Homo sapiens: one gene and its partners. The protein of the gene in region 1 purifies or fractionates together with the protein of each later gene. This does not show direct contact. Each region holds a gene or a part of one and is shown in the gene's direction. Other genes may lie near its edges.

Evidence for each region.
Region 2: the proteins of ETHE1 (region 1) and FXN fractionate together in Homo sapiens (co-fractionation; one large-scale study listed by BioGRID). This does not show direct contact.
Region 3: the proteins of ETHE1 (region 1) and GMPS fractionate together in Homo sapiens (co-fractionation; one large-scale study listed by BioGRID). This does not show direct contact.
Region 4: the proteins of ETHE1 (region 1) and GATD3 fractionate together in Homo sapiens (co-fractionation; one large-scale study listed by BioGRID). This does not show direct contact.
Region 5: the proteins of ETHE1 (region 1) and GSTO1 fractionate together in Homo sapiens (co-fractionation; one large-scale study listed by BioGRID). This does not show direct contact.
Region 6: the proteins of ETHE1 (region 1) and GLRX5 fractionate together in Homo sapiens (co-fractionation; one large-scale study listed by BioGRID). This does not show direct contact.
Region 7: the proteins of ETHE1 (region 1) and ACO2 fractionate together in Homo sapiens (co-fractionation; one large-scale study listed by BioGRID). This does not show direct contact.

What each region holds. Positions count from the first base shown.
Region 1 is NC_000019.10:43,524,402-43,528,459, reverse strand, and holds the start of ETHE1 (persulfide dioxygenase ETHE1, mitochondrial), read left to right. Parts: upstream 1-1,258; 5' UTR 1,259-1,282; coding exon 1,283-1,363; exon of another isoform or gene 1,364-1,523; intron 1,524-1,800; coding exon 1,801-1,945; intron 1,946-2,110; coding exon 2,111-2,259; intron 2,260-4,058. UniProt on the Homo sapiens protein: Sulfur dioxygenase that plays an essential role in hydrogen sulfide catabolism in the mitochondrial matrix. Hydrogen sulfide (H(2)S) is first oxidized by SQRDL, giving rise to cysteine persulfide residues.
Region 2 is NC_000009.12:69,066,752-69,070,251, forward strand, and holds part of FXN (frataxin, mitochondrial isoform 1 preproprotein), read left to right. Parts: intron 1-3,500.
Region 3 is NC_000003.12:155,936,650-155,940,149, forward strand, and holds part of GMPS (GMP synthase [glutamine-hydrolyzing]), read left to right. Parts: intron 1-941; coding exon 942-1,043; 3' UTR 1,044-3,500. UniProt on the Homo sapiens protein: Catalyzes the conversion of xanthine monophosphate (XMP) to GMP in the presence of glutamine and ATP through an adenyl-XMP intermediate.
Region 4 is NC_000021.9:44,140,183-44,143,682, forward strand, and holds part of GATD3 (glutamine amidotransferase-like class 1 domain-containing protein 3, mitochondrial isoform 1 precursor), read left to right. Parts: intron 1-67; coding exon 68-160; intron 161-759; coding exon of another isoform or gene 760-892; exon of another isoform or gene 893-981; coding exon of another isoform or gene 982-1,216; exon of another isoform or gene 1,217-1,233; intron 1,234-3,022; coding exon 3,023-3,179; intron 3,180-3,500.
Region 5 is NC_000010.11:104,253,666-104,257,691, forward strand, and holds the start of GSTO1 (glutathione S-transferase omega-1), read left to right. Parts: upstream 1-1,226; 5' UTR 1,227-1,263; coding exon 1,264-1,297; intron 1,298-1,497; coding exon 1,498-1,606; intron 1,607-4,026. UniProt on the Homo sapiens protein: Exhibits glutathione-dependent thiol transferase and dehydroascorbate reductase activities. Has S-(phenacyl)glutathione reductase activity. Also has glutathione S-transferase activity.
Region 6 is NC_000014.9:95,538,050-95,541,549, forward strand, and holds part of GLRX5 (glutaredoxin-related protein 5, mitochondrial precursor), read left to right. Parts: intron 1-3,500.
Region 7 is NC_000022.11:41,475,617-41,479,116, forward strand, and holds part of ACO2 (aconitate hydratase, mitochondrial precursor), read left to right. Parts: intron 1-3,500. UniProt on the Homo sapiens protein: Catalyzes the isomerization of citrate to isocitrate via cis-aconitate.

The sequences.
Region 1 (4,058 bases):
GTCACAAAGTGACATAGATCCTCCAGATGAGAGTGGGATGTCCTATTCTCACTACTGCTACGATTACAAAGAGCAGACTTTCTGACAGCTCATGACTTGAGACTACAGTTTTTCAGCCCCAGGTCCTTGGTGTAAATGAACACAAGCTCTTTTCAGAGGTTCACACCCCAACAGAAGATGAATAATCCCCAATCTGATTATTCAAGAGATAATGCAAAATTATCTTTTTTTTTTTTTTTAAGATTTCTTCCTGGAAAGAGAGAAACATTCCTGATAAAATGCTTATGCAATTTCTGGATGAACTTTAATGGGATCAAGTGTTGTTCTGGTAACCAGGCACCCACTCAAAAGTCCCTCAAGATATTAATGACCTGGAACCGAACGAATATCTTTTTTTTTTGAGACAGAGTCTCCCTCTGTCGCCCAGGCTGGAGTGCAGTGGCGTCATCTCTACTCACTGCAACCTCTGCCTCCCGGAACCGAACATCTTTTTCTAACCATGACTATCCTACCACCTGCTAGAAAACGGCCCCACGGGACGCGGTGGCTCACGTCTGTAATCCCAGCACTTTGGGAGGACAAGGTGGGAGGAACGCTTGAGCTCAGGAGTTCGAGATCAGCCTGGGCAACATAGTGAGAACTCCGTCTCTGCAAAAAACAAATTTTATATACATGTATGTGTGTGTGTGTGTGTATATATATATATGTATATAAATATATATATAGATATAAATATATATATATAAAATGTCGGGTGTGGTGGCAACGTGCCATAGTCCCAGCTACTCGGGAGGCTGAGGTTGGAGGATCGCTTGAACCCGGGAGTTTAAGGCTGTAGTAAGCTGAGATCGAGTCACTGCACTCAAGCCTGCGTGACAGAGCGAGACTCTGTCTCAAAATAAAACAAAAGAAAAAGGAAAAAAAACGGCCCCGAGGCTATGAGTGTACTGGGGCCTCTCCCTGGGTTTCTACTTCTCTCCCTATCTCTGTTCCTACATGAGTATGTCTGTGTGTCTCTGAGCGTCTGTCCCTCGCACTTTGAGTGTCTCCCTGTTCTCTGTTTTTTCTGGGTCTCAAAGCGTCCAGGCATTGCACTCTGGCTTTCCTCGGTCTCGCCCTCGCCCCAGTCCCGCTCGGCGGTCCCCCGCCCTCTGCCCCAGGCGTCCGTGGCCCCTTTAAGGCGTGCTCCGCCCCCGCCCCGCCCTTCCCGGGGTCAGTGCCGTAGCGCCCGGCTCCTGCAGGCGCTCGGCCTCCGCTCATTCCTGACCCCGCAGTGGGCGCGATGGCGGAGGCTGTACTGAGGGTCGCCCGGCGGCAGCTGAGCCAGCGCGGCGGGTCTGGAGCCCCCATCCTCCTGCGGCAGGTGCGGGTGGCTGGACCTAGGAGGGGACTGCTGGGCACTAGGCGGCAGCAAGGACGGAACTCCGGGGTCTCTTAATAGGGAGAGATCCGGGGGGACCCACGCCTGCATCTTGCGGAAAGCGGGGTGGAGGTTTAGGGCTGGACTCTTGGGTCCTTTAAAGGTGAGTGGTCTGGGGGCCTCTGGGCTTGGGGCCAGACCCCTGGGTCCTCTATGAAAGAACGTGCTGGGGACCCTGATTTTGGGATGTTAGGAAGTTGGAACTCTTTTGTTCTGATAGGGGAAGGTAGTGGGGCTCCGGACTCCCGACTCCCGGGGAAAGAGTGGGCTGGGGTTTCTGCTTCTGGATCTTAGGAAGAGGATAGGGTCAGTCTGGACTACTTGGCCTCCAGTGGGTGGAAGTCCGGTTCTGCGCCCTCACCTGGGTCCCCCGTTCCCAGATGTTCGAGCCTGTGAGCTGCACCTTCACGTACCTGCTGGGTGACAGAGAGTCCCGGGAGGCCGTTCTGATCGACCCAGTCCTGGAAACAGCGCCTCGGGATGCCCAGCTGATCAAGGAGCTGGGGCTGCGGCTGCTCTATGCTGGTCAGTCCGGGGACCAAACTCATGGATCCCAGCGGGGCTGGGCTGCAGCGTCAGTGGAATGGGAAGCTGGGGCCCAGAACTCCTGAGTCTGAGGGAGAAGGATCTGGGCTGGGACTCCCAGGTCCTTTCTGTACCCTCCGGACCTGTCCCTCCTCTCTCTCCCAGTGAATACCCACTGCCACGCGGACCACATTACAGGCTCGGGGCTGCTCCGTTCCCTCCTCCCTGGCTGCCAGTCTGTCATCTCCCGCCTTAGTGGGGCCCAGGCTGACTTACACATTGAGGATGGAGACTCCATCCGCTTCGGGCGCTTCGTGAGTTGGGTGCTGGGTCCCCAAGAGGGTGGTGGCCTGGACTTCTTAAACTTAAGGGAAGAGGGGACTGGGGGCCTGGGATCCTGAGTCCTTGGGGAGGAGGGACCTCAGGACCTGGGTTTCTGACCCCTGAGCTCATATTTCTGGGAGGGGGGCACCATAAACCCAGGTGGGGCACTGGGGCAAGAGGCTCTGGGCAGGTGGGGCACTGGCGGAACTCCTAAGTCAACAGCATTTAAGGAGTTTCCTTCCTAAAGCTTAGGGGCAGCCCTTTGGCCTGGCATGCATCTCCATAAAAGTTGATTAGGGGCTGGAATTCTGAGGGCAGGGCTGAGAAGGAAAGAGACCCAGTCCTGTCTTGCGGAAACCTCCGTTTGAGGAAGGAGCATCTGGGTGCTTAGAACCCGGAGCCCAGGACTAGGAAAAGGACGGTGAGGACCCTGGAGTGCAACATTTAAGGAGGCACTCGCTCTCAGGGTCCTGTAAGTGCAGGGTCCGCACCTGTGAGTGAGCGCCTCCTTAAATCTTGCACCAACAGCCTCACCCTAGTCCTAGCCCTGCCGTTGCCTCACACTGGGAAGTCTAAAGGTTCCTGCCTTCCTCACTTTATTTGCCACAGGCACCAGCGGGTTTCCGGCCAGAATTGCAACCAGGCCGAAGGAGGGAGGGCCAGGGGAGTTGCCCTCAGAGAGAGGGAAACAGCTGGCAGGGCATTCTTCTGATCAATTGCTAAAGATGTATAATAAAGTTTGGCTGACTTTGGGGACAGAATGTCAGGTGACAGAAGACAGCCTCCAGGTTAGAGAGTTTTGCCAAATAGGGACAGTTCATTTGAGTCAGAGTGTTTAGAGGAAATGAGGGCTGTGTGTGGGAAGAGAGTTCAGCTACAATGGTTACAGAAGCTTTATTTCAAGCCTTTCTCTGGAAGCAGGCAAAAATGCATTGTACATGTATGTACATTGTACATAATAGGTGCTAACAAACATGTCTTGAAATGAACGAAGGGTTTAGCTATGGTAGATTTAGCTTCAGTGTTTTTTTTTTTTCTTTCTTTCTTTCTTTCTTTTTTTTTTTTATTTGAGACTGGGTCTCTGTCACCTAGGCTGGAGTGCAGTCAGCCTTGACCTCCCAGGCTCAGGTGATCCTCCCACCTTAGCCTCCCTGGTAGCTGGGACCACAGGCATGCACCAGCACGCCTGGCTGATTTGTGTATGTTCTTGTAGAGACAGGGTTTTGTTATGTTGCCCAGGCTGGTCTTGAACTACTGGGCACAAGTGATCCTCCTACCTTGGCCTCCTAAAGTGCTAGGATTACAGGGCTTCTGAAAGTGCTGGGATTACAGGCATGAGCCACTGCACCCACCCTTTTTTGTTGTTGTTGTTTGTTTGTTTGTTTTTGAGAAAAGGTCTTGCTCTGTCACCCAGGCTGGAGTGCAATGGTGGGATCATAGCTTACTGCAGCCTTGACCTTCTGGGCTCAGGTGATCCTCATGCCTCAGCCTCCTAAGTAGCTGGGACTACAAGCACCTGCCACCATACCTGGCTAATTTTTTAATTTTTTGTTGAGCTGTAATCTCACTATGTTGCCCAGGCTTAATAGCTTTATTGATATAACCCACATACCATATAATTTATCTATTTCGAGTGCACAATTCAATGACTTTTAGTATATTCAGAGTTGTACATCCATTACTACCATTAATTGGAAAATGTTTCCATTACTCCAAAAAGACCCCACACCCCTTAGCCATCACCCCTATCCTTCCCTTTTCCCCCCTCAGCCTTAGGCAACTTTTTTTT
Region 2 (3,500 bases), on another chromosome or scaffold:
TATTTGGACACACTGCCCAGCAATACGCTCTAGCTGTGTTCAGAAGCATGGGAATTTGGAAAGATCTGCTGAGCATGCCGTTTACTGTCACAGATACTATCTTCCTCAAAAAAAAAAAATATATATATATATATGGGGGACGGGGCAGGTTGAGACTGGGTGAGACTGAAGAGGTGCCTTGGCCAGAGCAGGCCACACCCAGAGACCACAGGCTCCCCGGTCCACCTCAGGCCCCTCCCCTTCCTGCGCCGTTTCCGGCAGATCCAGAGTGGCCACCGCCGGATGGGAGTCGGGGGAAGGGAGGCAGAGAAGCGGGCCCTGAGGACAAGCTCTCAGTGCTTCTGTGGGAAGTGGCGGCAAGACGGCAGCTCCCAGCGGGGGATGGAGGCCGAGTCAGTCTGCTGGTCACTGGAGGCCAGGATGCTGCCTAACACAGCCGTCCCGCTCCGGGCCTCACCACCAGGGCGGCTCTCCCCACTCCCGGCCTGCTGCCCACACAGACTGCGGGGTTCCGGGGGAGCAGGACCCAGGCCGTTCTGCGCCTGTCTTCTTGGAAGGAGCAGGCCGGAGCGCGGGAGCGCCGTGTAGCTGTACCTGCGAAGGCACAGGATTCCGCGGGAAGATCCCGCAGTTTCGGGCCGTCGTCATTGTTTTTATACCTGTGGCAAATGGCATGACCAGACACACGGTTATGTCTGGAGAAACCCCTGTAGAGGAGCAGGAGGTTGTGGACATGCTGTGGCCCGGACAGTGGCTGCCGAGCAGTTGGAGCCTGCACCCGCCCAACTTGGCTAAAGAAGTCCCCATACTCTCTGTGGAAAAGATTTCCAGAAGCTGTTGTGTCAATATCAAAGCCTCAAAACAACAACAACAACAACAAAAACATGAAATTATCAACAATAAAGATCATCCTTGAGTCTGCTTTGAAAAGTAGGGTGAAATTCTGCAGAGGCATTCAACTGGCAAGATACCACCCTCATAGCCAGATCTGCAGGTCTCAGCCATCATGCCAGGGAAAATGCTCCATTCACCACTCCTCAGCTTCTGCTTCTGGTTTCAGAGGTCTCTGTATTGGAGGGGCTTTAAAGCAAGAAGGGTCTTTACCCACTTACTCTTATTCACAGATGTGAATATGCAGGTCCAGTGGGGAAAGTGACATGTCCTAAGTCAGAATAGAGTCAACAAGAAAACAGGGCCCAAAATGACTTAGCCTCTAGTGTATAATGGGCATTGATGAGCTACTGGAAATACAGAGATGAAGAAAACACAGTCCCATCTTCAAGGAGCTCAATCTAGCAAGGGAGACAGACTCTTTGTAGGTGGGACCGGGCTTCCCTGCAGCAGAAGGAAGCTTGAAATTGGTAACGAGCCTCAGAAGGGACAGAGGCAGGCCACCATGCTACCCTGAGAGGATCGCATGTGGACACGGGGCTATGACCTGGCCCTGCTTTGACCCACTAGCTGTGCTGTAGGGCCAGGTGGAGCCTGGAGTGGCCTGTGCTAAGGGGCTACTATGAGCTCTTTCCACTCCCCCAAGGCATTGCATAAATAATGTCACTTTCTGTTTGCACAGCAAAATCAGGGACACAATTTTCTAGAACATGGGGTGCCTCCCCTCCCCCCAGCCCAACAGAAGTTCTACAATGACTGATGGGCCCTTGTTTTTGTTTGAGACGGAACACCCCACAGGGTTCCGAGTGGTGATTTGTGGCCCACAGGCCACTGGCAAGTGGAGGCAGAGCTGCAGAGCCCTCGGGAGCCACAGAGGGCCTGCTGGCCGCCACGACATGCCAACTCAGCTGCTGCTGGCCCTCCTGTGGGCGGCAGTGCTAGTGATGTGCAGAATCTTAGGACTAGTGCCAAGGAACCTATAAATACCCTGGGTGACCCAGGCGTGCACTGCTGTGGTGGCCTTCACAGTCAGAAGATGACAAGCTGAGAAGGGGAGAATCGGCCCAAGGTGAGATCCACAGAAAGGCCAGGGCCAAGATGCGGCCAGCACCTCAGGCTGGTGGTGGTCTTACGTTGACCATGCCAGAGGCCAGTCCTTGATTGCTCCAAACCCTCTGTTCGAGGGTTCCAAATGAAATGAGCAGGTCCTCGTGTCAGGACCTAGGTTAGTTTCTGAAAAAGCATGAAAAGCAGGCCTCCTGAACTTCCCCGAGTGACTGATGCAAAGTGCGTCCTGCATGCTTCACAGCACCATGGAGAGGATCTTCAGGGGCAAACTGCAGACTATCTGAATGACGGCACTGACCATCAGCAAACCGCAGAGCTGCCTGACCAAGAAATTGCGAGACAGAAGCAATGCTTGCAGGCGAAGAAGAAGGGGCCAGACACAGTGGCTCACGCCTGTAATCCCAGCACTTTGGGAGGCCAAGGCAGGCGGATCACTTGAGGTCAGGAGTTTGAGACCAGCCTGGGCAACATAGTGAAACCCTGTCTCTACTAAAAATACAAAAAATTCGCCAGGCATGGTGGCAGGCACCTGTAATCCCAGCTGCTTGGGAGACTGAGACAGGAGAATTGCTTGAACCCAGGAGGCGAAGGTTGTAACGAACTGAAATCGTGCCACAGCACTCCATCCTGGGCGACAGAGTGAGACTGTCTCAAAAAAAGGAGGAGAAGAAGGAAAGGCCAAGGCAGGAATGAAACAGGCCATGAATGTTGGAGTGAAGCAACTGGCCTCCTCGTGCTAAGCGGCTACTGTGAGTTCTTTCCACTCCCCCAAGACATTGCATAAATAATGTCACTTTCTGACACTCACCCCGCTGAATGTCCTGCCTCTGCTCAAGGGTGGTATGATGGGGACTTGGCAGTGGAGGGGAACAGGGAAACCAGACATGGTGGTCTCCCCGCTTCCTGGCTACAAGTCCCTCTGAAGAAATCCAAAGGAGTAAAGAGCTTGGAGAGTAGGCCTCTGTAGGGTGCAAGGGCACAGCTGGAGACGGAGCTCCTGAGGCTGCAGCTGATGCTGCCCGCTCTGCCTGAACTGCACCAAAAACGTGATGAGGCCATAGCGGGAGTCCACGGAGGAGGATGCCTACTGCCCGACCTCTAGCAGAGACTAAGCAAGGTGCATGAAAACTTGAACCACATGTGTCACACCCATGACCACTACATGAAGATGGCCCAAAACCTGGCCCAGGAATTGAAGAAAGACTCTTCCAATTTGCTGTAAGAAAATGGCCCAGGGGGCAAGCACGGTAGCTCACACCTGTAATCCTAGCACTTTGGGAAGCTGACGCAGGCAGATGGCTTGAGCTCAGGAGTTCCAGACCAGCCTGGGCAACATGGTGAAACCCCGTCTCTACCAAAAATACAAAAATTAGCCGGGTGTGGTGATGCATGCCTGTGGTCCCAGCTACTCAGGAGGCTGAGGTGGAAGGATTGCCTGAGTCTGTGGGGCAGAGGTTGCAGTGAGCTGAGATCACACCACTGCACTCCAGCCTGGGTGACACAGTGAGACCCCATCTCAAAAAAAAAAAAAAGAAAGAAAA
Region 3 (3,500 bases), on another chromosome or scaffold:
TCACATATTTGATTAATACACTGGGGCAGAAAAAGGCTTTAAATTATATATGCTCTCCAATTGTGTGATTACTGTATAAAAAGTAATTGATTATAATTTTATCTAATCCTGCCAATTTCTACTTTACAAACAGTATTCCCCAAATAAAAAAGAAAACTCTAGGAGTGAAGAAGAGTTTGTTAGAAATAAGGATGCAATTTGATAGCTTTATGGCCAGACACCCAAGAATTGCCTAAATGTTCTCCCTACTACCAATTCCAACTCAATTTTTGATCCTTCTTTGTCTTCACCAGAACATTCCAAAGGAGCTACTTGCATAATAGCAAGTGAAAATCAAAGTGAGACTCTATTAGTTGGGCCACTGCCTCCAGTGCACTAACACGAAGCTGTCGTGATAGCTAGGTAGATGGGTTGGTTCGGAACGTGGCTTAGAGTCATTTTTCTCTTAGGCTCAAATTTGTCAAATTTGACAAGTGAGCAGGCTATCCTCTCCTGTATACTTGATAATGATTATTACAGTGTACTCTGTGCCACCTTGGTGGCCCTTAGAGTTGTATGTTTAAGCTGCAGATAATTTGCAGAGCATTGGCTGAAACACATAAAATCACATGCTTGGATGCCACAGCAATGTCAAATCGCTATATGTTCTTAAGCACTTGTGGCTCAGTCACAAACACAACTTGCAGACTAGCACCTGTTTGTGGATCACACTTTGAGTAGTACTGAGTTTAAGTCACTAATATTTTAAACCTTAATAACTTACACCTATCCCTGCAGAGGGGAATAGGTTCATTATATAAGATTAATCAGAAACCATCCCATATACATGGAGGACAATAGTGAAAATAGTCAAATTTTAATTTCAAATTACAAATGTAAGCCCTCTAGGACTGCTGGACATGCAGTGGATGCTGACTTTTCTCTATAATTTTTTTTAATAGGTGGTATTAAAGATGGTCACTGAGATTAAGAAGATTCCTGGTATTTCTCGAATTATGTATGACTTAACATCAAAGCCCCCAGGAACTACTGAGTGGGAGTAATAAACTTCTTGTTCTATTAAAGTACCGTGTGCAGTTTAAATTGATTAGAAATCATTCCCATTATTGACATGCAGTACTGTGAAAAGAGTTACTGGAGCAGCTACATCACATCTGAGTTCTCCACAGCAAAAATCTACGGCTTAAGAGCTGAGTTGGGGATAACCAAAAGGGACTGAAGAGTTTGTACGGGTAAATAATCAAAGCACCATTGCCTACACTCAGACAGATTGATACTGCTTTTGCCTTTGCCTCACTTATTCTTTATGTATAAATTCACTGTTGATGTCTCTGTGAATATGTATGAAGGTGGGTGAATTTGGGGGTAATTATGGGCTTCTGTCTCCTTACCAGTTTCTAAGAACTGTTAGAAACGCCCATTATTTACCAGTGTTACTTACTACTTATATATACTTTTTGGAGAATCAGTTTTCTTATAAGTAATCTTATTTCTCCAAAGGGTGAAAAAGAGATGAACATATCAGATAAAGGTATAGGTGGGCTATTCCAGCCACTTTTGAAGGACACTGAGGGTATAAAATGTAAGCTACCATAAGATGGAAAAGCACCAGGAATTTGTTGATGTACTTTTGAATTTTATTTCACAGCCTTGGGAGGAAGAAACTATGAGTGGTCTCAGATGTCTATGAATGGTCTTAAAATGTTTTCAAACCATGTTCCACATAGATGCCATGTTATTCAATGTCAGCTTGTTTATTAGTAAGGAGCTTTATCCTCCTAGCCTTATATTACCAGCCCCCCACAGCCTTGCATAGAAAGTTTCTGTTATCTCCTTAGAAGAAACTGGCTCAATGACGTTTCTGGTGTAGTGCAGATAGAGGTCAAGAGGAGCATTTTCATCTCTTCTTTTGCTGGTCAGAGAAACGGTTCTGAGATCACAGAAGCTATGATGCATACCTACAGCTTACAAAAGGGAGAGGAAAAATGTTTATATCATCTAGTAAACAGTTGTAAAATGAGCTTTTAAATCTAATCTATAGACATATTATTCATTGCTCAGACACCTGTGAACAGTCTTGATACATGCAAGATGTTTGCCAAACTTTGTAATCCTTTCTACTAGCTATAAGAGAGGATTTAAGAACTGGTGTAGGACTTGTTGCCATCACCACCAGTTTCTAACAGATCTTTTATAACATTCACATAAGTACTGTAGACAGTAGTAGACTTAAACTCTCCGTTTCTCTCAGTATTTTAGCTAAGAATGTTACCATATTTTTCTCTTAACAATTCCATCTCAGGTTGCTGCTGCTTGTCTAGTTTAAAAGGTCAGATCTATTAATCAGGAATGAAATTTTATTTGGGATTCAGTGTTAGACAAACAACAAAATGATGCGTGGCAGAAGTCATCTTTTTATTCTGGCTGGTCCAGGGAACAAGAAAACTGCTGCTGGACCAGCAAGGGAAGAGTTTCTGTCTGTCTTAACAGAAATCTGTCCCCAAGACAAAGGGGTACTTGACTCCTACAAAACTTAAAGGGTACATTCTCTATCTGATGAGGAGGTACTCATTATGGCCTTCTGGAAAGAGGCTATGTTAGTGATCTGGTCTTTACAGATTTAGAGTCATGTTATTTGAAAGCTAGAATAGACAACCTATAAAATGCTTACCAACATGTGTCAGTACACGTTTATGTTTATATGAAAAAAAATTTCTAGCCACAGTGTCTTATGATTTTGTATTGAAGCAAACAGTAGGAATTTTGGAAAAATAGAGAGTAAGAATGTGTGTTCTATGGAACACTGCTCCACTGAGAAGGTCCATGTAAAAAGGATTAGGTGGTCATATAAGTTTGGGGAACATAAGCTCACTTGTCCTTTCCTGGAGATTCATGGTATATAATATTCAAAGCTCTGAGAAATTCTGAAGTTAAAAACAATTGTTAAATTCTGCTTAAATTAGTGTTTTCCTGATATTTGTTTTTTGAACACCTTTTATATAATCCCTTCTAATATATACTTAGTATATACTTAATATAATATTGGGAAAATTGTTACTCCAAAGCACATCTTGACATGACATAGTTTCTTAAAAATCCAAATTTTCTGGAACTCAGAAATTTCCTAATATTTAGCACACTGTCTTCTTTTGCACAGCACTTTTTGCTTTGTGCCATATAGCATTACTCTGTACCTTCACAGTATTTCATCTGAGCCACTGAGGAAAGTTAAAGGTTGCACTTCCATTTTACAGTTAAGAAAACAAGCTCACCTTAGGCATGGTTACTTAATTAATTTCAGAATTAAATTTCAGGTTTCCTTAGTCCAGATTGTCCTGATGTGTATTCTGACACCTAAAATTATATAAACATTTATGGGATGCTTATTTTACTAAGACTAGAATGGTGGCTACCTGGCTAATAACATTCATCATTGGTTATTCTGGGCATATCATGACTTTATTCCCGTTGCTTACCATCTACCTGGGACACATCTCTCT
Region 4 (3,500 bases), on another chromosome or scaffold:
TAGGAAGCCCCCCAGGAATAGACCCTGGTTGTGAGGCTGTCTGAGGAGGCCTTTTGTCTCCCGGTAGGAGCACGTTTGCCGTGGACGGGAAAGATTGCAAGGTGAATAAAGAAGTGGAGCGTGTCCTGAAGGAGTTCCACCAGGCCGGGAAGCCCATCGGGTGTGTACAGCCGTGCAGGCCTCGGGGAGGGAGGGAGGAGGGTGCGTGGGCCCGCGGCCTCTGTTCTCAGCCAGGAGCTGCCGCTGATCCTGAAAACTCACAGCTGCTTTTCTTGTTTTAACTGAGGGGATTTCACACGATGTCACTGGTGACTTAACAGGAAGGAGAGGCACAGTGCACTTCCCTAGAGGAGGCCTGGAATTCTCTTGGCTCCCAGAGGTGTCCCTAGGCAGTCCCTCAGGACCCCTATCCTTTACCAGACCCCTTCTCCCAAGCCCCTTAGCCACAGTACCCCCAACCCCGCTGACTTCTGGCCAGTCACTGCAGCACGTGCTCCATCCCTGACGCCATCCACTCCCAGCGGCCTCCCTCCTGGGGAGCCACAGCCAACCACGCCCCTTTGTCCCTGCTCAGACAAAGCCTGGGTCCTGAGGTTGGCGGCACGAGTAGGGCGCCCACTCCTTCATCCACGTAAGCGCCTTGGCTTACGTGGCGGGTCGCAGCCCCGCAGGGAGTGTGTGCTCTTCAGCGTCTGCTGCCGGGAAGTCACTCTCAGATGTGTGAGGGTGACCCAGCAAGGCCGGGTTCCGCCTCGGCAGGTGTGATGCTTCCACGAGCCTCCCGGCACCTGCTCCTTGGTGGTCCTGGAACGCGGCGCTGTGCTGTCCAGGTCTCAGCTGCGTCTGGTGCTGGCAGGGCGAGAGCCGCACTTGCGTGGGTGAACATCAGTGAGGCGCACTCGCGATGGCCGCTCACTACCGAGTTCTGTCAGCCGAACAAGGATGAGGATCTATCGGAATCCTCTGTCTCCCCATCCACAGTCACTCACTTAAGGACCTGCCTGGTCACTGTCCAGGGAGGCCCCTAAAGTGGAGCCTCAGGAAGAGGTGCAGGCTCAGAGCTCCTGAAGGAGGTCCCTGCTGCAGCCGTGTCACAGCCGGGGTGAAGGTTTCGCCCATGGTCTCCACCTCGGGATCCCGTCCTTGTCAGAGAAGTGTTCCTTGGATGAGCGCCCAGAGGGAGGAGCCCATGGCCCTTTCTTCTGTGACTGATTAAAAATCTCGATGAAACAAGACAGCCCCTGGCAGGTGAACCACTGCCTCTGAGCATGCCTCCCCTGAAAACAGTGTGGGGCGCAAGCCCATCTCCTCCCCAATCCAGCCATGAGGCTCCCCTGGAAACAGCACAGGGCGCAAGCCTGTCTCCTCCCCGGTCCAGCCATGAGGCTCCCCTGAAAACTGCAGGGCACAAGCCCGTCTGCTCCCCGGTCCAGCCATGGGGCTTCCGTGCACGGTGACCCACAGGCTTTTTTCCTGAGGAAACCTAAATCCTTTCCCACTGGCCCCACCCACCCCTCAGCCTGGTGTCAGAGGCCTGCGTGGCCAGCCAGGGGCTGTTAGGCGGCCCAGCCGCTCACTGCTGGGACCCCTTCCTTGAATGCAGTAGTCGAGGTGGGCGCTGGGCTGTGCCAGGAGCCACTGTGGCATCTGTAGCTGGCAGTTGATGGCTGGGCGGCTGCACGCAGCGTCGGGAGCTGCTGAGAACCTGCTTCCTGGACTTTCTGCCTGCGCAGAGGGCGGCAGGGGGGTTTCATCTCATAGGCAGCCAGAAGTTGCTTCAGGACATGCAGTTTTGGGGGCGGGTTTGTTTTGAGAGTATCGCTCTGTTGCCCAGGCTGGAGTGATCTTGGCTCACTGCAACCTCCGCCTCCCGGGGTCAAGCAATTCTCCTGCCTCAGCCTCCCAAGTAGCTGGGATTACAGGTGTCTGCCACCAGGCCGAACTTTTGTAATTTTAATAGAGACAAGTTTTCGCCATGTTAGTCAGGCTGGTCTCGAACTCCCGACCTCAGGTGTTCTGCCTGCCTCAGCTGCCCAAAGTGCTGGGATTACAGGCATGAGCCACTGCACCTGGCTGTGAAATGTGTTTTTAACAGTGTTTCGTTACAGCTCACGGTAGCAGTTTCCACCTGGGCCTGTCGGGAGTGGGTAGGACTGTAGACAGCGGGAGGAGGGATGAAGGGTGCGGGGTGTTGAGGGCAGGGTGGGGCCTGACAGCTGTGGGCTACACCACAGGTTGCCAGGGGATGGGGCTGCTGTTAATGAGGCCGTACTCCTTCCACTGTTGCCCCTGGGTGGCCATGAGGCGCTGGACGACACAGGTCACTGAAGGCCCTGCTGTGGGCACAGTGCCTGGCACACAGGGGCCTCTGTTGACTTGGCAGGGAGGGGTTCCTGATGAAGCAGAAGCAGGTCCCAGGGGTGGGTGTGGCAGGACCCTCAGTTTCAGGGCTGCTGCGGCCTGTGCGTCAGGGTCAGGGGCGTGCGTCCACCAGCCTGCACTTGTTGAGAGTTGTGCTGCAGGTCGGAGGCTGGCGAGGCTGCTCCTGGCCCGTTGTGCCTCCTGTAGAAGGGGGGCTGGTGTGAATGAGAAGTGCAGCTGTGTTATCTATTGCTGGGTCACAGACCACCCCACAACTCAGGGCTGGGGCAGCCGCACATCATTACCCTCTCTGTGAGTGGACTTTGGCAGCCCGGGACTCTCGCCAGTCTGGGGTGTCCTGGGGCTTGGGGCTTAGCCCATGGCTGTTGGGGGTTCCCCTCAGGGGTCCTTGGCCTGGTGCTTGAGTGCCTGCAGGGCGTGCTTGGCGGGGAGTGGGGCTGAGGACACCTCACTCTCAGCCTTGAGTCACCTGGTGCCACCTCCATCACATCCCATGGGCCACAGCCTTCTGGCAGCGCAGGCTCACAGGGGGCAGGGTCGGCAGGGCTCCCGTGGCAGGGCAGCCTGGGGTCATGGCGAGGGTAATTTCTGTTCTGCAGGCCATGCAGCCTGCCTGACCCGTGTTCTTTTCGCCTTTCAGCTTGTGCTGCATTGCACCTGTCCTCGCGGCCAAGGTGCTCAGAGGCGTCGAGGTGACTGTGGGCCACGAGCAGGAGGAAGGTGGCAAGTGGCCTTATGCCGGGACCGCAGAGGCCATCAAGGCCCTGGGTGCCAAGCACTGCGTGAAGGAAGTGGTCATATCCTTCCTGGTAGCCAGGCCCGGCCCGCTGTCGTGCTTGTCCCTGAGACGTGCATAGGGACGCCCCTCCCTCCGGGCTGTCTTGGTGGGTGGCCTCTTCACCGGGAGCTGCACCTGCTGCTCTCCCTGTGGGGCCTCCCCCAGTGGGCACCGCAGCCATGTGTCTAAGGGCAGAGAGCAGATGGCTGTGACAGCCCAGCTGGTGTGAGGTGGGTCACAGACACGTCAGAAGCGCAGCTCTGGTGCGTGGTTGGCAGATCTGGCAGATCCAGGTCCCTTGCCTGACTGTTTAGTCTGCTCAGCAACACCCAGGCAGCCA
Region 5 (4,026 bases), on another chromosome or scaffold:
GGATGTATCCTACAGGTGACGGTAGGGACAGAGGCCCTCCCAGTAGTCACGTTAAGCTAGTACTGACAGAAAAAGGAAAAGCCTGTCCAGGTGGCTGGGCAACCCTGCAGCGAGGCATAGATGAGCTTGTAAATCAAAGGAAATGACCAAGGTGAGTCTCAATCCTTTTAGAGGTTTATTTTGCCAAGGTTGAGGACACATCTGAGAAAAAGGAACACAAAATCACAGGAACATCTGTGATCTGTGCTCTTTCCAAAGAGGGCTTGAGGACTTCAATATTTAAAGGGAAAGAGCAGGCAGTAGGGGAAAGTGGAAAGTAAAAAGGGAAGGTAGATAAAAGGGGAGAGTAGTTGCATTCTTTGGGGCCTTTGATCAGCATTCACTGAATGCGCATGTTACATTCGTGAAAGGAGGTCGTAGAGGAATAGTCAGTTATGCATTCGTCTAGTGCTTGGTGAATCTGCATTTTTACAAGATTAAATATAGGGTAGAGGAAGCGGTCAAATTGCATTTTTCTCCAGCGAGAGGAAGGATGACTCCTAGACCTGTCTTTGTCCCATACTTGGGAAGATAAGCTGTTAGTTTACATTGCCAAGATGAAATTCAACTGATCTGTTTTAGAGTAAAGATCTTGCGGGCCAACAAGGAATTTCCTTGGGGAGGTGTGTGGCCTTTGATCTTTGTAGCTATTTAGCAACAAAATGGGAGGCAGTGTTGCCTGACTCAGTTTCCAAGCTTGACTCTTCCCTTTGGCATAGTGAGTTTGGAGTCAAGAGATTTTTATTTTCCCTTCACAAGCTGAACAGGAGCCTTTGGAGAGAACGCTCTGGACCGGTGAGTGAGCCATGAGGTCGGGCCACAGGCTCTGAAGTCGTGAAGCCTTGGGACGGAGCGGGTGGTGCTTCGAGGTCAGTGTCACGGGAGGGAGGTCAGGGTCAGGGTCAGACGTGGAGCCCCGTGGAGTGCGGAGTGGTGACCCCTTCGTTCGGGGGCGGAGGGATGACTGAGCATTTATAACTTTTGTGTATCTCCCCGTGGGTGCAGCCCTTGGCCAGCGAGATGCTTTGACACAGCCCCTTAAGATGTTTTAAGGGCTATCCCATAAAGCCGGGAAGGCACAACGGGTGGAGCTGGCGGCCGCCGGGGGCAGGCACTTTTGAGCTAAGGAGGAAGCGGGGGAGGGAAGGAGGGCGGGAAGGACGCGCCACCTACTTCCTGAATCCCCTGCAAACCCCAGAGGAGCTCGGCCTGCGCTGCGCCACGATGTCCGGGGAGTCAGCCAGGAGCTTGGGGAAGGGTGAGGCCTGCCCGCCGCGAAGAGGGGGTGATCTCGGCGACCCCCGGCGGCATGTTCGAGGCTGCTCCGGGAGCCCAGCCGCCCGGGAGCGCCCCACCGGCGGGGAACGGGTCGGAGCTGCAGTGGGACGCGGGGGCGGTGGGATACGGGGGGTCTCGACACCTCTCTGGGCCGTAATCGCCTTCGCTTCTCCCCGGCAGGAAGCGCGCCCCCGGGGCCGGTCCCGGAGGGCTCGATCCGCATCTACAGCATGAGGTTCTGCCCGTTTGCTGAGAGGACGCGTCTAGTCCTGAAGGCCAAGGGAATCAGGTGGGCACCCAGGCGGGGGACGCTCCCCGAGCCGTCCGGGAGCCTGCTGCAGGCGGCGGGGTGGGGTGGGGTCTCAGCCCCCTTCTACCCCCCTCCCACCAGCGTCCTTTACTGCACATTAAACTATTCTCGGCCCTTTGGAAAATAGCAAGTTATAGGCCATTCCCCTAGGAAAAATAGGCCACAGATTCCAACGGTCTAGGACACCTCATTTAGATTAACCAACCATTTAATGGATTAGAAAAGCTGAGGCTCCAGTGATGTTAGTGATTTGCCCGGTAATAACCGGCAGCAGCTCTTTTAGCTTTGGTAGGTCACGAATTCCTGGTCCAGAGTCCTTTCGCTTTCGCCCTATTGTGATTTCCCGTTCTTATTCCAGCTTAACTGTTAGTTGTTATTCTGAATGTATTGTTCCCTCCTAGAATAGTAATTTACCCCAGTACAGCAGAGTTTAGACCCTGACCCTCCTAGGGTAGTGCTGAGTTTACTGCACATATTCCTGTGGATTGGGCTGTTGGTTGAGTCAAATAGAGGGAAGTGTCTGTCTAGCTCATCCTTCTGCAGAGCCTGTTTTGAAACTAGCATAGTTTTTGACTTACGGGCTATCCACAGGATATGTGCAACAGTCACTTGACTTTTCTCTGACACCAAGTATCCATTGGAACCACTTCCCTTCCCATGACCTTTGGATGTCTGTTGATTAGACATTTATTAGATACCTTTGGTGTGGAAGGTTCTGTGGAAGTTTAAAACAAACCCCCTATTCTTAAGGAATTTTCTGTCTGTGTGCTTAGTGTTTGTGAACTAATTTTAGTCTTCTAAGGGGATAATCTTTAGGGGTAGGCAATTATTTTCCCTAAAAGAAAGGTAAAATGCATTTAAAAAATACATTTGAAGGGGATTTGTCATTACTTCACTAAGAAATGCATCTCATTTGGATGAGATTATGATTCTGAACACATAGAGTACTTACTATTTCATAATGTTTCTCAAAAACACTGTCATATTTGCTGTGATAGAACTCTTTTATTGTACTAAGAGAAATCTAATGTAACCAAAATTGAAAAAAGACATTTTTTGGTACTCATTTATTTGAAAAGTCCAGGAGCATGACACAGCTGGATTCAGAGGCACAAAGTCCTGGGTTATGTGCTTCACCCTGGACCTTTAGTTTGAAAACAACCCTACCTTATTTACTGGGGCAGTTTTCCAAAGGAACATTGAAACTATCTTCCCCTAATAGTGTGGGGTAGAGGGGAGGAAGAGAGTGGTTAACAGCTTCCAGACAGTGCAAACAACAAAGGTCTACTACATTAATAGACCAGTTTTAAGCTTGAGCCCGAGGAGGCTTTTACTGGGAAAGTACTAGATTTTAACCACATGATATGACTTAACAAAGCATGGTTTTCTCTAAAAGATGCATCTTCCAACTTGCTGTGGCAGGTGTGTAGACTTGTTGGCTCACAATGCCAGCTTACCAAAATTCATGTGTGTTCTGACATACTTTTTTTTTTTTAAATAACAAAAGCCCAGGATCTTTTTGTTTTCATAGTAACAAAAGTTTTTGTTTTATAGTTCAAAAATGTTGATAATTCTTTGGCAAGGAGCCAAATAATTTTTTTTTTTTTTGCAATGGCTGGTACTTAAGTGTCCAGTATTGTCAGCACATGAACCTTTTAAATTACATGCACACCTGTGCTCATGTTCAAATTGGATGTTCCTTTGTTTACATGGGGGATTATGTATTTAAATCCTCAAATGAAATGCTGTTCTAGCTACAGCTGTGGATGGGAAAATAGAAAACAAAAGGTATTGGTGTCTATTTTTTTTTTAGTAATCTGTTCTATTGAACATTTATTCAGCCTTGACAATCATATGGACCTAGCTCCTTTCTCTTAGTTCCTCTACAGTCTCAGGCAACATACAAGATAGACCTAAATACAATCTGACTATAGCCTGGACTTCACCTGTTTTCTTCCTTTTTGGTTTACTTTGTATGATTTACTCAGACAACATTTTTTAAAAAATCAGTACATGGAGATTTAATCTGAAAGCTTATTTTGTGGGTGGATTTTTTTTTTTTTTTCGAGACAGGGTCTCGCCCTGTCACCCAGGCTGGAATGCAGTGGTGCAATCATGGCTCACTGCAACCTCTGCCTCCAGGGCTCAAGCAATCTTCTCACCTCAGCATCCGGAGTAGCCGAGACTACAGGTGAGTACCACCACACTTGGCTAATTTTTATATTTTTTGTAGAGATAGGGTTTCATCATGTTGCCCAGGCTGGTCTTGAACTCCTGGGTTTAAGCAATCCGCCCACTGCAGTCTCCCAAGGTTCTGGGATTACAGATGTAAGCTACCAAGCCTGGCCTTGTGGGTGGATTTTAAGGATTCCTTAATATCTTCATAAAAACCAAGAAAC
Region 6 (3,500 bases), on another chromosome or scaffold:
TAATTTATGGAAACTATTGTATTAACATTTAGATCTAGTTCCTAACAGTTTTTTTTTTTTTAACACATTGAGACCATGCTTGTCTATACATAGTATTTTGCCCTCCAGAGACGAGGGAATATGTCTTATGCCACTGCCTGTGGTGCTGTGTGTACCGCTTATGCAAAGCAAGCTTTCAGTGAGCATTTTAATAAATAAATAAATACTGCTTTTATTTATCATTATATTGCAAACTCTGCGGCCTTAAAGGCATTATAAACATTTGCTGCCGATTTAGATCATCATTGTAGTCCTTGCATCTGGAACAGTGACAGAATAGGGACTCAAATGATTTGTTGAATAAATAACCATATCCTGTTGTTGAATGTTTATTAAGCATTTGAAAATACGCTCCACCTTTTCAGTATCAGGGAATTGAAGACAGTAGTGAAACATGTCATGCTGGTGAACCTTAAAAGTTGGATAACAAGTTGTGTGTATGTGCTTGTGTGGTGCACATGTATGCTGCAGATGGGAGTATAAAATGGTACCAACACTTTGGAGGAGTAACTATCAGTACCCAGTCAAGCTATGGGTGAACAGAGCCTAAGACCCAGCTGCGTGACTCCTAGGTATATATTCTAGAGAGGGGGATCTGCAAACTTACCCTAGTAAAGGGCCAGAGACTAAGTACGTCAGGCTTTGTGGGCTGTGTGGTTTTTGTTGCATCTATTCAACTCTGCTGTTATATAGCCTGAAGTCAGTCATGGGCAATATGTAGATGAATGAGCAGGCTGAGTTTCAATAAAACTTTATTTATGAAAATACAGCTTTAATTACGAAGTAGACTGGATTTGGCCTGAAGACCATAGTTTATCTGTCCCTGGCCTAGAGACTGACTTCTGCATGTGTGTGTTAGGACATGGGTCCCCAACCCCCAGGCCAGGGATCGAGGACTTACAGCAGGAGGTAAGCGGTGGGTAAGTGAGCTTTACCGCCTGAGCTCCGCCTCCTGCCACATCAGTGACGACATTAGGTTCTCATAGGAGCACAAACTCTATTGTGAACTGCACATGTGAGGAATCTAGGTTGTGCGTTCCTTACGAGAATGTAACTAATGCCTGATGATGTGAGGTGGAACCGTTTCATCCCGAAGCTATCCCCACCCTTCCCTGGTCCGTGGAAAAATTGTCTTCCACAAAACCAGTCCCTGGTGCCAAAAAGGTTGGGGACCTCTGTGTTAGGATACCTGTGTTGGCGCGTTCATTGCAGCATGGCTTGCAATAATGAAAAACTGACAGGAAGGGATCTTGGTCTATTAGCAGCAGACCAGATAAATAAACTTTAGTCACATGATGGAAAGCTAAACTGTAGTTAAAATGAACTAGATCTAGATGTATTTAACATGGCTGAATCTCAAAAATACAATATTTAGTCAAAAAGCAAGTTGCAAACACGTAATTATGGCATAATACCATTTGTATATGTAAATGTTAAAGGCATAAAACAGTCCCATATATTGCAGATATGTGTGCAGTGCACTTGTAGCTCCTGGGCAGGAGTGAGATGGCAGCTAGAGGGTAGAGGCCACCTCTGGTGAGGGACTCAGGTAGCATGTGGTTAAGAGTCTGGGCTTTTGTACTCCTGGAAGCCTGGATATAAATCCTGGTTTCACTGCGCTGTCACTGTGAGTTTCGGTAAGTTACTTAACCCTTCTGAGCCTTAGTTTCTTCATCTTATGTAAAGTAGGGATAATTGTACCTGCCTTGTCAGATTTTTGTAAAGATTAAATAAGATTATTTTTGTAAAACGCTTAAAGAGTATGAAACTCAGTAATCCTTAACTCAATAAATGGTATATATATATATATTTTTTTTTTTTTGAGAGAGTGTTACTCTGCTGCCTAGGCTGAAGTGCAGGGGGCAATCTCGGCTCACTGCCACCCCTGCCTCCCGGGTTCAAGCGATTCTCCTGCCTCAGCCTCCCAAGGAGCTGGGATTGCAGGCACCTGGCACCATGCCTGGCTAATTTTTTTTATTTTTAGTAGGGACAGGGTTTCACCATGTTGGCCAGGCTGGTCTTGAACTCCTGACCTCAGGTGATGCACCAGCCTTGGCCTCCCAAAGTGCTGGGATTACAGGTGTGAGCCACCGCACCTGGCCTGAATGGCGTTTTCATTACTTTAGGGTATACTTAATCACTTTTTCCTGCTTTATTTTCCTATGCTTTTTCTGTTGCCTTTCTCAGAAAAGCATTACTGTGAAGGGTGGGTGGTGGAGCATGTTGGTATGGAGAGAATGTCCACACTGTACCTGGTACTATGCTGGGAGCTCAATTCATTTCATTCCTTAGATATCATGGAATCTTCATAATATGTGAGGCGTAGAGTATATTCCCATTTTACAGATGAGGAAACTGAGGCTAAAAGATTAACAGATTTGTCTGAGGCTACATTTACAGGCTAGCAAACCAGATCTACTGATCCTTAAGCCTGTGCCTTGCCCACTCTGCCCCGTGCCTTGCTTTTCCTCTAGTGAGGGTCTACTGATTTCCGTGCTTTCAGCTCAGATCATCTTATCTCGACTTAACGCCATTCTCTAAATTAGAGAATATGAAGAAATTGTGACTCTCAGAGGTGGTGTAACTTGCCCAAGATCACAGAGTCTAGTAGGTAAGAGACAGAGTTGGAACTCATATCAGATTCTGAAGCTACTGTAGTGAGGTTCTACCAGGAAAAATAAAAAGAAAGAAAACTATGATTATGCTGCTCTCGTAATTTAGTGTCCAAATCAGGAGTAATGCCCAGTGTTCTGAATGTGATGAATTTTGAAAAATACCTTTTGAAAGTTCTGGAAGGGAATTTTAAAGTATCATTTCTGTACTCTTTCTGGGTTGATACTTTGGAATATGAATTTGTTTGTATGGGTTTTTTTGGTGGAGCATTAGATGCGTGTAAACTGACTTTGTAAGATAGCCTCCTAACTCCCAGTTCCTAGTGTTACTCTGCCATATAACTTTGCAGTCAGCATTTTCTGCCCCAGATGGAATCACCACCGTCTATCACATATGAAATAATGATTATCATTAAAATTCATTCTTGGATGTGATTTTCTAATTTTCAGGAGTAGCTCTCTGATTCTGAGTTAATTTCAAGTGATATTTGTAAGAACTACCACTGCATATTGCAGTTTTTGAAAACTAAAGTGTGAGAGAGATTAACCATGTGTAAACAGTTACTTGTGGATCCGCAGGATTCATTTTAATATTCAACTTATGAAGAGTAGTCTTTTATTATTATTAGGAGTTTCTCACTTCACTCTATAGGAAGCAATTGGGTATTTCCTTAAATATTTAAACTGGTAATCAACTTTCTTAAAAATGGAAAAGAGCATAGTCATTAAGAAGGGTGCCAACGTTTGGCCTTGATGCCAGCTGCCTATTACACCTATTCATCTAAAAATTAAAGAAGCAGCTAAGTTTAATTTTGATAAACCGTCAGCTGCTGTCAAGAACAGGCAGGT
Region 7 (3,500 bases), on another chromosome or scaffold:
GGACGTGGTGGCTCACGCCTGTAATCCCAGCACTTTGGGAGGCTGAGGTGGGTGGATCACAAGCTCAGGAGTTCGAGACCAGCCTGGCCAATATGGTGAAACCCCATCTTTACTAAAAATACAAAAAAAAAATTAGCCAGTCGTGGTGGCGCATGCCTGTGATCCCAGCTACTCAGGAGGCTGAGGCAGGAGAATCAGCTGAACCCAGGAGGTGGAGGTTGCAGTGAGCCGAGATCGCGCCACTGCACTCCAGCCTGGGCAACAGGGTGAAACTCTGTCTCAAAAAAAAAAAAAAAAGCAGCAGATGGACCCTCAGGAGCCTTAGGAGACTTCTGCCACTGGCTTACTGGGTAGCTTCGGGCAAAGTCTCAACTCTCTGTGGTCCTGCAGTTAGTTACACATCTGCAAAACAGTGTAATTAATAACTACCCTTCAGTTAAGAAGGGTTCTGAAGGCCTAATATTTGAAAAGTTGTTTTGACTCTGTTTGATGTGTTATAAAGCATTGTGAGCCGGGTGTGGTGCCTCATGCCTGTAATCCCAGCACTTTGGGAGCCCAAGGCAGGTGGATCACCTGAGGTCAGGAGCTCAAGACCAGCCTGACCAACATGGTGAAACCCCGTCTGTACTTAAAATACAAAATTAGTCAGGTGTGGTGGCGCATGCCTGTAATCTCAGTTACTTTGTGGGCTAAGACAGGAGAATCGTTTGAACCTGGGAGGCGGAGGTTGTACTGAGTTAAGATTGTGCCATTGCACTCCAGCCTGGGCAACAAGAATGAAACTCTGTCTTAAAAAAAAAAAAAAAAAAGGCCAGACGCAGTGGCTCACACCTGTAATCCCAGCATTTTGGGAGGCCAAGGCAGGCAGATCACCTGAGGTCAGGAGTTTGAGACCAGCCTGACCAACATGGTGAAACTCCATCTCTACTAAAAATAGAAAAAAATTAGCTGGGTGTGTGGGTGGTCGCCTGTAGACCCAGCTACTCGGGAGGCTGAGGTACGAGAATCGCTTGAACCTGGGAGGCAGAGCTTGCAATGAGCCGAGATTGCGCCACTGTACTCCAGCTTGGGCAACAGAGCGAGACTCTGTCTCAAAAACAAAACAAAACAAAAAAACAAAAAAACACACACACTGCAAATAGTTTCTGATATTATTTTAGGAATAGGCCATTTCTAAGATTGAGAGTAGGGACAGATTTTCCCCTTGTAGAATATCTTCATTTTGGAAGTCTTGAAAGGTAGGGAGAATGGGCCAGGCATGGTAGCTCACGGCTGTAATCCCAGGACTTTGGGAGGCCGAGGTGGGTGGATCACTTGGGGTCAGGAGTTCAAGACCAGCCTGGCCAACATGGTGAAACTCTGTCTCTACTAAAATACAAAAAATTAACTGGGCATGGTGGCGTGTACCTGTAATCCCATTTACTTGGGAGACTGAGGCAGGAGAATCAGGTTCAAGCGAGTCTCCTGCCTCAGCCTCCCAAGTAAATTAAAGGTAGGGAGAATGGTTTCCATATTATTTATTTATTTATTTATTTATTTATTTATTTATTTTTTTGAGACGGAGTCTGGCTCTGTCTCCCAGGCTGGAGTGCAGTGGCGCGATCTCCACTCAGTTCAAGCTCCGCCTCCCGGGTTCACGCCATTCTCCTGCCTCAGCCTCCTGCGTAGCTGGGACTACAGGCACCCGCCACCACGCCCAGCTAATTTTTTGTATTTTTTTTTTTAGTAGAGATGGGGTTTCACGGTGTTAGCCAGGATGGTCTCAATCTCCTGACCTTGTGATCCACCTGCCTCGGCCTCCCAAAGTGCTGGGATTACAGGCGTGAGCCACCGCACCCGACCTCTTTAGTTTTATTCTGCAGCACCTGGGCCAGAGGAAGGGGCACCAGCTTTGGAGCCAGGCCTGGAATTCCACCTTGCTGCGTGACCCTGGGCAAAACAGTTAGCATTCCAGAGCTTCAGTTTCCTCATCCATTAAATGGGCACAATGCCTTCTGCCTCACAGGGTAGTCGTGGGATTGTGTGGATAAAGTACTTGGGGCAAATCCAGTGCAGGGTAGAGGCACTTGGTGAATATTCATTTCTGTCTCCAGCCCCTGCAGATGGCCCGCGGCATCCATCACCCCAGCCTTTATCCTTAGCTCATACGTTTAAAAAAGACCAGTTGTGGCCGGGCACAGTGGCTCACGCCTGTAATCCCAGCACTTTGGGAGGCCGAGATGGGTGGATCACGAGGTCAGGAGTTTGAGAACAGTGTGGCCAATGTAGTGAAACCCCGTCTCTACTAAAAATACAGATATGAGCCGGGCATGGTGGTGTGCGCCTGTAGTCCCAGCTACTTGGGAGGCTGAGGCAGAAGAATCGCTTGAACTCAGGAAGCAGAGGATGCAGTGAGCCGAGATCACGCTGCTGCACTCCAGCCTGGGCAACAGAGCGAGACTCTGTCTCAAAAAAAAAACCAAACCAGTTGTGAAAATTGCTTGTTCCTCCCATCATCTCCCCAGATAGCAGGTAAGTGGTAGTTGTTCAAGGAAACCTTTTTTTCAAGATAGAGTCTCGCTCTGTTGCTCAGTCTGGATGCAGTGGCATGATCTCACTGCAACCTCCACCTCCTGGGTTCAAGCAGTTCTTTTGCCCCAGCCTCCCAAGTAGCTGGGATCACAGGCACGCACCACCATGCCCAGCTAATTTTTGTATTTTTTGTTTTAGTAGAGACAGGGTCTCACCCTGTTGGCAAAGCTGGTCTCCAACTCCTGACCTCAAGTGGTCCAGCTGCCCCAGCTTCCCAAAATATTGAGATTACAGGCGTGAGCCACTGCGCCTGGCCAAGAAAACCCTTTCAATACTGTTTTAAAAGAGTTGGGGGAAGAGGTAGAAATGAATCTTTTGGTTTAGTTTTTTAATTCTCTAAGGACAACATTGGGGAAGTGAGCTTTAGAGTTATATTTGCAGTATTTATTTTTATCATGAAATATTCAAGTCTAGGCCCTTGGTGAATTGAGGCCTGGTGAGTATTTCTGCTTTCCCCCTGGAGAGATTGAGATGGTTTCTGATTGGGAGCTTTAATTCTGTGGGCATTTGTGGGACTTACCAAAGAGGTATCTAGAGTTCCTTTAAAACCCCCGCCCTGTCCCTGCCACATATCTTCTTTTTTTTTTTTTTTTTTTTGAGAAGGAGTCTCACTCTGTAGCCCAAGCTGGAGTGCAGTGAGTGACACGATCTCTGCTCACTGCAACCTTTGCCTCTGGGGCTCAAGCAATTCTCCTGCCTCAGCCTCCCAAGTAGCTGGGACCAGAGGCATGCGCCACCACACCTGGTTAATTTTCTTGTATGCCACACTTCTTTAGTTCCTTGTAGCCGGGCTCCTTGACCTTCTGCAGGGCATCTGTGGTTGTGGTATTTATAAGCACTCACTGTGTCATGAGTGTGTTCACAGAGCTCTAAGACAAGGGCCCTGTCTGTGGAAGAGCTTTTAGGGTGGTGAGGGAGAAGTCATCTAA